Homo sapiens: one gene and its partners. The protein of the gene in region 3 purifies or fractionates together with the protein of the main gene of each other region. This does not show direct contact. Each region holds a gene or a part of one and is shown on either strand. Other genes may lie near its edges. The genes, in order: CNOT7, CNOT11 and RIBC1.

Region 1 (2,934 bases), on a different chromosome or scaffold from region 3:
GTATTCAGTATTTCTGTATTGTTTACAATTGGGGGAAAATGTCTGTTAAGGCTAATCATCTGAGTGATTTGAGTAGCAATTAAACCAAAGGGAAACTTTTAATAAGTTATTTTAAGCCCTGGTTTATGGCTAGTTCCCTTTTGCTCAGGAAAAATAGTACTACTTTATGGTTTATGAAAACCTATGATTTATGTTGCATCTTCCGGGGAAGGTTTAACAGTACAAGGAGCTGAATCCTACCTGAAATTATTAATGCTTAATATATTGCTTCTGTTTGATTGATAAAGGTGCTTAATCAATTGAAAAAAAAACGCATAATGCTTCAAGGTAAAATTCCGTTGATTCTGAATTTAAAAAGATACTACAGAATGCGTCAGTTCTCCTGTTGTATTTTTCTCAGTTATGAGAGCAAGGCTATTTTGTCAGTTTAGATTTTGTGTCTTTTTCTGTCAGTATGTATGGCTCCCTAATTGAAAACATCTTAAATGAACTAATCAAACACTTATTGTGTGAAAGCTGAATACTTTAAAAAGCAACCTTAATTATAAACTCATCTTGGAGTAGCATGCAAATGTGCTAAAGTTATTTAAAAAACATATACTTAGGCAAGAAGTAGAGGACAGCCCCAGAATGGCTACAATGAATGGAAGGAAAGTCTGTATACACACATATAGCTCAAGAACAAGTTTTTATTATGCATGGGTTTCGCAGTGATACAAGACACCTGCTCACAACTTACAGTATTAATTTTTTAGAAAAACAAAACAGGTATATGGCATGAGTGAAACAGTTCCCCATTAAAAGCACTTAAAACCTATGACATGGCTAGTAAGATGTAAAATATTAAGTCCCCTTGGGGTCTTGCAAACTTGTATTTCCTAACAATTTGGAAGCCATGATGATAGTCTGAAGCTAAAGGAACTCCAATTTCTTGGTATGATACTAAATAAAGATTCTTATCTTTTGGGAGAAAGAGCCAAAACAGAAGGGTGTGAAAGCAGTGAATTTCCCCTCCTATGACAATAAAGCAAGAGGGCAGATTATATTCATGAATGCTTCTCATATACAAAAAATTCCTCCATACCAGGAAGGAGAGTATTGACCAGTTTATCTTTAAAAAGAAAATGAGTAATTCTGGAGAAATGTAGCTTGTTCATTCACCTACAGACTATGGCTACAAAGCAATGAAATGGACTTCTAAAGAGAAATTGCTCAATTGCTTTTATACTAAACGTTAAATGTAACTAATGCTGTAGAAAACTGTTTAAAACAAATGGAAATTGTCTAGTGATAATGTACATGAATCTTGTTTTCTTGGAATTTTCATTCTATGGTGACATTTTTTTAACTTTCAAAACCTGAAATGAAAATTCTGCAGGATTTGGATGTGTACAGTCCTACGTTTCTATAATGTCTTAATAGAAAAATAAATGACAGGTAACGTTGTTATAAAAGAAACTCTCATATAAATTACACCAACATAGCAAATGGCATGTGTGAACTGGCCTTCACTACAAAGCACCGACACACAGAATAATCAGCATTTTTCCTATCCCTTTATTTATAAATTCTAACACATTTATTTTATAGACATGAGATAACATATGCATTCATAATTTGATTCCACCTCAGGTTGCCTACCCAGAGGAGCCACTGCATTTGGCAATGCAGATGAAATAGCAAACAGGACAGACATAGACCCTTGAGTTTCTTCTAGTAGAGAGGTGGACAAGCCTTTTTTTTTTTTTTTTTTTTTTTTTTGAAAAGGGCAGGTAGCAAATATTAGAGGCTTTGCAAGCTAAGACAAAATGAAGGACATTATTTAGGTACTCAAGGAAACTTTTCACCAAATTTTTATTCTAAAAATTGAAAACTCAAAATATTGAGTACAATTTTTTTTTCTTTTTTTAGTAATAGAGTTCTACTAATGGGAATAATGGGATTTTTTGGCAGGGGACGGGAGGTAACATTTTGCTCAATTTGGGCTGAAAGTTGGTATCCCCTCATTGGAATAAATAGAAAATGTTAATCTGTTAATGCTGATGTGTAATGGGATTTCACGTATTTCATCTTTGAAAATGTCTTTTCACACAAACAGGTCAAGGTACTGCTAAATACTGACACATCCACCCATGAGCATGTGATTTTAGTTAAGCATATTCATCACTTGTAAGGCATTTGTAGGATTCATCTTTTTGGTATTTGCCCTTTAGCATGTCATTCATTCAAGATGATTCATTTCCAACAGAAGATTAAGAGGAAACTTTAAAAGCATTTAATTGCAGTTAAATGCTTTTAAAATTTAAAAATTTTCTTTGCACTGCATCAAGGTCCAAAAAACTGCTACAGGAAAATATATCCACTAAAAATGGATTTGGCAATACAGCGCTGTTTTGACTTCTCATAGCACAGAAAGTATATAAAGCAGCTTGACAATCTTAAGTTTTAGTTTTTATTGAAATGAATTTACCATATTATGTTGTTGTACCTTGTAATTTCAGGTCAAATTCATTAAGAAACATTTTCAAGTCTGTGGCAAAAGTTAATTTCCAAAGTTACTCAGTGTTAAAAAACAGTGGTTGAGGATGGTTTTTCTCATTCAGAAAAATTTCAATGTCAGCCCAGAGCCCAAAAAAATAAAAATAAATCTTTAGCACTGCTAAGCCATTGAACGCCTGTGTGGCAAATCAAATCAGGATATTCAGCTTCTGTTTCTCACAAAAAAAAAAAAATCATGGAACTGAAGATGGTTAAGTCCACAAGAGCAAATGAAGTTAACTGTTGACCAGTTCAGTAACACCAATATTTCCTGTGAAGTACCTGCTGATGAATAATCAAGTGAGTAACTACAGGCTTTAAACAACTTACGTTTTCACAAGCCTTAAAATTTGACCAAATAAACTTTTTTTCTGCTTCATGCATTTTTCCCAGCAT
Region 2 (3,500 bases), on a different chromosome or scaffold from region 3:
AAATACTGTCTGGTTGTAACAATGTCAAGTCCTTTGCAGGTTTTTTTTTTCTGTCATCTGTTGTAACTAAAAATAATCTTAATGACCAACTAGTTCTCCCAAGAAACAGTCCTGCCCCACCCCACCCAGGTGGAGACCAGAAATACCTGAGAAGGGGGCGGAGTGGGAAGCCGGAGCGGGAATCCGGACAGCTGACCTGCTGCGAGTCATCAGTCTGCAGAACTTTACAGTTCAAGTCACACCCACACTTTGTAATTCAAACAGGTATCCTCAAAGGACTTTTTCTATGAAGTAAGCACTTCCTCTTTAAATGTCCTATGCTTTTTTTCCCCCGTCTACTTAATATGTTCCACAGTGGACTGTGTTTTCAGGATGGTCTTGCGAGCAAAGCGAACTACAAACGTTGCTATTATTTCGTTTTGAAAATGATATTTTTGGTGGCAAACGTGATAGGAGAGGTCATCTCCTAAAAAGTTCTAACTCAAAAGTGTGCAAACTGGATAAAATTCACCAACCAATAGAAGAGTGGCCTTGCCTTTCCTGAGGAGAGTCATCCAGTCTCACACTCGGGCAGTGGGGGCTACTTTAATCTCAAATACACCACGATCCAGCTGTGTGATGGGGGCGGGTTCCCCTTCCCAGCCTTGTTTTCCTCCCTACAGCCTGTCAGTAACTCCACTTTCCATCAGAAGCGTTACCATCAGCTCAAACGTAACCATTGTGTAGTGTCCCACTGTACACAGCAGTGACACCCCCACTACCCCACCTCTCCCAGGGACAAACATCACAAAGAAAAGTTAGAACATTTTTGCCATCAGACTTCTTGCCCCACCACAGCAAAATTACCAAAGAGTAGAACAAAGCTTCAGAGACCCAAAAACCTTTGCAACTTCCTACTGCTCACTCACAGTGACAGGATTAGTTTATTGCTTACCACTTTCCAAAAAAAAAATAAACTCTTGTTGGATTAAAGATAAGAAAATGCTCACAATGGCTGGGTACAGTGGCTCACACCTGTAATCCCAGCACTTTGGAAGGCCAAGGTTGGCAGATCACTTGAAGCCACCAGACCAGCCTGGCCAACAATGGCAAAACCCCATCTCATAAAAATACAAAAATTAGCCGGGCATGGTGGTGCATGCCTGTAGTCTCAGCTGCTGGGGGCGCTGAGGCACGAGTATCACTTGAACCCGGGAGGCAGAGGCTGCAGTGAGCCGAGATCGTGCCACTGCACTCCACCCTGGGCAGCCGAGTGAGACTCTGTCTCAAAAACAAATTTTTTTAATTAAAAATAAATTTAAAAAAAAAGATAAGAAAATGCTTACAATCAATACACACCTGTGTTTGTTGGGGAGAGGATAAGGGGCTTTTGAAGGCTTTGGCCATTATTCGTTTGATCTCCACACCAGTGCTATTCTTAACACACATCGATTTATCCCACTGGATCGCGTGGTCAGGCTCCGTGGGGTTTAGCCAAGCAAGTTCATCCTCACAAATGTGGAGTGGAGGCGGTGGACGAATAAACTCTGGTCGAAAATGGCCTGTAATGAGAGCCGTGATAGTTGCTCCTATCAGGAAGCTAACATCTCTACACATCTCACACATTTCACTTAATAAAGTATGCAAAGAAATCTCTTAATAAGGATGATGTGACTAGAACTCTCATACTTCAAAATCAGAAGCAGGAATGACACAGGAAGTCAGGGTTTCAGTCAGAATGCAAACAAGACAATGAAAGAACACTATGCCAGCATGATGCCAGAGAACAATCTATTCGCTTTGCAGAAGTGAGGAAAGCCTGGCCGTGATCTGCCCATGCTGCACTTGAGCATGGCCACTCAACAGCAAAAGGGCACGACTCCTAAACGGGTGAAGTCTTTTGATGAAAAAATGAAATACTATGCCCTCACACATCCTATTCTTAGTTACCACTATTTGTTCAGCTGCCACTATGATTTGTACTAGTTTTATCTTTGCATCTTATAACTGAAGTAACAAATTACGTGGCGATGAAGCAGCAGGAGGAAAAGTATGGTTGCCTTTTGATATTTCGAAACGAATGTGGAAACCGTCACGAATCCCTAAATTCACAAATACTATATTCATTTTCAGAAAACAATAGAAGTACAAAAGGAAAATGAAGTGGTTCAACTCAACTATTTTATAAAACAAGATTCATCCCTGAGTTACAAACCCACTGAAATAAATGCTGGCTAGGACTTCTGCTGAACCAATTTCACATCTCACATAGTTTCCACATAGGGCAGGAGTGGCTTATTCCTGTCATGGATCCTAGCCCTGCCAAATTTGAGAGTCTACTGTTGAGTTTACAGAAAATATTTTTTAGTTAAAAATCATCACTTTATCTTAAACATCTCCACTGCCTCTTCACTTACCTCACCAGGACTAGCATCTGAATCTCCCTTCAACCACTTACAAAAATAAAGTTTTTAACAATTTATGAGAAATACTACTTATGTGATAGAGAGTTCTTGCGAGGTGGGGACACCTGGTGTTTGGCTAGACCCACTTATTATGAGTGATCTGCTTTTCATATATCTTCCTGGTGACCTATGCAATTTAGAGTTCTGCCCGAGCAAATATTTAAAAGAAGCCATTACATGCCATGGACATTTCAGTCACACTTGTGACCAGCAGAAACTTCAAATATTAAACCTATGTATGTCAAAGATCTACTGTAAACCAAATGGTACAAAAGTCACTGTGTGAACTTCAAACTCATGGTGATACTACACTATCATCTGGTAAACATGTTCTCATCCCAAAGCAGAAAGCTTGCCTTCATAATTCAAAGCACACAGAAGCCTATAAAACAGATGCCAGGTAGAGTGGTGCATGCCTGTAATTCCAACTATGTGGGAGTCTGAGGTAGGAGGATCCCCTGAGCCTCAAGGGATTGAGTCCAGCCTGGGCATCATAGCAAGATTCCATCTCTTAAAGAAATCCCCAAAAAATGCAGCTATATTATTTCAAATTCTACAAGTGTTTTCTTTGAATTAAAGTAAATTAGGAGTTTATAAGAAAAACTTTAAAATGGAAAAGGAAATGATAGCAATAAGAAGATTTAACAGGTATAAAACAAAAAGATAATGAGCTGCTACAAAAAGACTCATTTCAGTAAAATGAGAATCTGTATTTTTTTTTTTTCCTTTTTGAGACAGAATCTCACTCTGTCACCCAGGCTGGAGTGCAGTGGTTCGATCTCGGCTCCTGCAACTTCTGCCTCAGCAATTCTCCTGACTCAGCCTCCCAAGTAGCTGGGACTACAGATGCATGCCACTACACTCGGCTAATTTTTTATTTTTAGTAGAGATGGGGTTTCACCATGTTGGCCAGGCTGCTCTAGAACTCCTGACCTCAAGTTATCCACCTGCCTCGGCCTCCCAAAATGCTGGGATTGCAGGTGTGAGCCACTGCGCCCAGCCTGTATCTTTAGGTATGCATAGGATAGACATGCAACAAACAACTTGGCATGCATT
Region 3 (3,109 bases):
ATAATGAAAAAGGAGTGTTGTAGATGTGTTTGAGGCTTAGAAAGGTGAGCAGGGGTCAGATCATGAAGAACCTTATAAATCTGGCAAAGGGGGTTGGGCCTTATAAGCACTGGGGAGCCATTGCTTTAAAGGTGCTTTCAAAGGCTTTACGCTGAGGAGTGCCATGGTCAGATTTGCTTCCCAAAGATCACTCTGGTAGCCAGTGCAGAGAAATCCAGTGCAGAGAGGGTAACGTTGGAGCAAGAGAACCCAGTGGGGCTCCTGAGATACTGCCTGACACCAGATTGTGAGGCCTGAATTAAGCTGGTGACAGCAGAGATGGAGGGCACAGATACGAAATATATCAGGAAGTAAAATCAGTAGGAATCAATAACTGCTGAAATATTATAGGGAGAAAGGAATGGGGGTGGCGTGTAGTCAAAGACGGTGGTCGGCACTGATGGGCCATTCCACCTCCCTTTTGCTCCAGATGTATAACATAAAACAGTCAACAGATACCAAGGAAGCAGCAGCCATCGAGGCTAGAAGAAATCGAGAAAAAGAGCGACAAAACCGATTCTTCAATGTGCGGAACCGAGTCATGGGGGTGAGTGGGTAGTAGGGACTGTTGCTCAGGATCAGGGCCACCTCACTCTTACACCTGGAGAGGAATGTGTAACAGTGCCCATGATAGCCCTTCCCCTGATTCAAGTAGGCCCCTAGGGCAGGAAAGGAAAGAGAGGGAGAGAAGGCACCCACCCCTACAGGCCTGGGAAGAGCTTGGGAAGAGGGATAGGTCAGTGCAGGGGAAGAGACTAGGGGAGACGGCTGACCCTTCTCCAGTCAGCTCTGGGCCATGTGACCTGGTTCTTGAGACAGGCAACATGGAGCTAAAAGAGGCCTAAAGAATATTTGGAGTCCGGGTGCAGTGGCTTACACCTGTAATCCCAGCACTTTAGGAGGCTGAGGTGAGCAGATCACACAAGGTCAGGAGTTAAAGACCAGCCTGGCCAACGTGGTGAAACCCTGTCTCTACTGAAAATACAAAAATTAGCTGGGCGTGGTTGTGCATGCCTATAATCCCAGCTACTTGGGAGGCTGAAGCACAAGAATCACTTGAATCCAGGAGGAGCAGGTTACAGTGAGCCGAGATCACACCATTGCACTCCAGCCTGAGCAACAGTGAGACCCTGTCTCAAAATTACTGCATATACCTAAACTATCTCTGCAAGGCTATGTTGAGAAACTTAACCAGGCTGAGAGACAGAGATGGAAGGGACACTTACGCCTCACTAAACTGTATTCCTTTTTGTATGATTTTGAAATGTGATAAATGAATTATAATAAAAGAGAAAATATTGATAGTTTAAGAAACAAAAGATTGCTAGGTGAGTGGATAGAGGGGGGATGCAGCATGGTATTCTGGAAAAGACCCCGTAAGTATTTAAGGCCAGGTCTGCTGACTGTTATGTGTGTGGCTTTGGATAAATCACCTGTCTTCTCTGAGCCCCAGGCTCCTCTTCTGTAAAATGAGGCTGAAGGAAGTCAGGTGAGTGTTAACACAGAGTGGCAGCTTTGAAAACCAGTGCATAGTGCCTGCCGTAAGAAGTTGGCTAGGGTATTAGTGTTCTGATTGAGATCCAGCTGACAAGCTGACAAGCATTTCCTCGGGGCCTGCTCTGTGCCAAGCACTGTGTTGGGCAGTGGGGATACGAAAATGACTAAGGCCCAGTTTCTGCCCTGAAAGGGTTCACAGTCTGGTGGAGGAGAGAATACAGAGAGGCGAACATCAATATAATGTAGACAGTGGGTTCTAGATTCTACAGGAGTAGAACCTGCCTGAGGGGTCAGGAAAGTGAAGGCTGAGCTGGTCTCGAAGGACAAATTGGAATTTGTGTAAAGAGGGGAGGAAAGTGTTCCAAGTGGAGGGAGCAGCTTGAGCAAAGGCTATTGGTTCAAAACAGCCTAAGATATTCAGGGAACTGTAAGCACAGCTCATAAGGGTAAGGTGGGACTAAGAGATGAGGCCAGAGAAGGAGGCAGAGGCTAGACCATGGAGAGGCTTACAAACCATGCTCAGGAGCTAGAACTTTATCCAGTAGGTACTGGGGAGCTACAGGATTCTGAAACAGGTAAATTCTAATTAGTTTGTGGTAGGACATTGAAGGCCCCCTGCTGGGCCCCTACTCTGATTGTGCTCCTTTCTTTGGGATCAGGTGGATGTCCAGGCCCTGAACAACCAGGTGGGAGACCGAAAGCGTCGGGAAGCAGCAGAAAGAAGCAAGGAGGCAGCTTATGGTAAAAGCCAAAAGCCAGGGGCCAGACAAGGGTGTAAAGAAAGAGCTCGAGTGGGCTGAGGTAGGGCAGTTCTGCCTCTGTGGCCTGAGGCCCTGGGGTGGTGGGACAAATTGGATGGACCTTGAGAGTAGAGGACATGCTAAGTGGACTCTGTCCCTCCTGGGGTATCTTCTCCATATCCTTGCTCACCACCCCCAGGTACCAGCCAGGTGCAGTATGATGTGGTAGTCCAGATGTTAGAGAAGGAAGAGGCAGATCGAACACGTCAGCTGGCCAAGAAAGTCCAGGAGTTTCGGGAGCAGAAGCAGCAGCTCAAGAACGGGCGTGAATTTAGTCTTTGGGATCCAGGCCAAGTCTGGAAGGGGCTTCCAACCTATCTTAGTTACAGTAATACCTATCCTGGTCCAGCCAGCCTGCAGTACTTCTCTGGGGAAGACCTAGACAGGGACACACGGCTGAGAATGCAGCAGGGGCAGTTCAGGTACAACTTGGAAAGGCAACAGCAGGAGCAACAGCAAGCCAAGGTTGATGAGAATTATACAGGTAAGCAGCCCGGCCCTCCAGACTCAGAGACCTGAGGCCTAGTGGGGATCTGTCCTAAGCTGAGTACAGCAGCCAGGGGACCAGAACTGTGTGGGGAGGTCCACTTATCCATAGGGTTGGTGCTGAAATGTTAGGTTGTGCAGACCCCAACCTCCCTGACTTCCTTCAGTAACTGACAGTGTAGCATTGTTCTTGATTAGTTTGGCACTCCATTACGTGGAGGCAGCACAGTGCAGACAGACCTAATGGCTCTGCCACTTACTAGCTGGTTTGGGCAAATGAATTTTCC

Evidence for each region.
Region 1: the proteins of RIBC1 (region 3) and CNOT7 purify together in Homo sapiens (co-immunoprecipitation; 3 studies listed by BioGRID and IntAct, with this or other methods). This does not show direct contact.
Region 2: the proteins of RIBC1 (region 3) and CNOT11 purify together in Homo sapiens (co-immunoprecipitation; 3 studies listed by BioGRID and IntAct, with this or other methods). This does not show direct contact.

The regions. Positions count from the first base shown.
Region 1 is NC_000008.11:17,224,295-17,227,228, forward strand, and holds the end of CNOT7 (CCR4-NOT transcription complex subunit 7), read right to left. Parts: 3' UTR 672-2,934; downstream 1-671. UniProt on the Homo sapiens protein: Has 3'-5' poly(A) exoribonuclease activity for synthetic poly(A) RNA substrate. Its function seems to be partially redundant with that of CNOT8.
Region 2 is NC_000002.12:101,262,886-101,266,385, reverse strand, and holds part of CNOT11 (CCR4-NOT transcription complex subunit 11), read right to left. Parts: intron 1,542-3,500; coding exon 1,339-1,541; intron 265-1,338; exon of another isoform or gene 1-264. UniProt on the Homo sapiens protein: Component of the CCR4-NOT complex which is one of the major cellular mRNA deadenylases and is linked to various cellular processes including bulk mRNA degradation, miRNA-mediated repression, translational repression during translational initiation and general transcription regulation.
Region 3 is NC_000023.11:53,425,808-53,428,916, forward strand, and holds part of RIBC1 (RIB43A-like with coiled-coils protein 1), read left to right. Parts: intron 1-469; coding exon 470-586; intron 587-2,195; coding exon 2,196-2,277; intron 2,278-2,475; coding exon 2,476-2,820; coding exon of another isoform or gene 2,821-2,855; exon of another isoform or gene 2,856-3,109.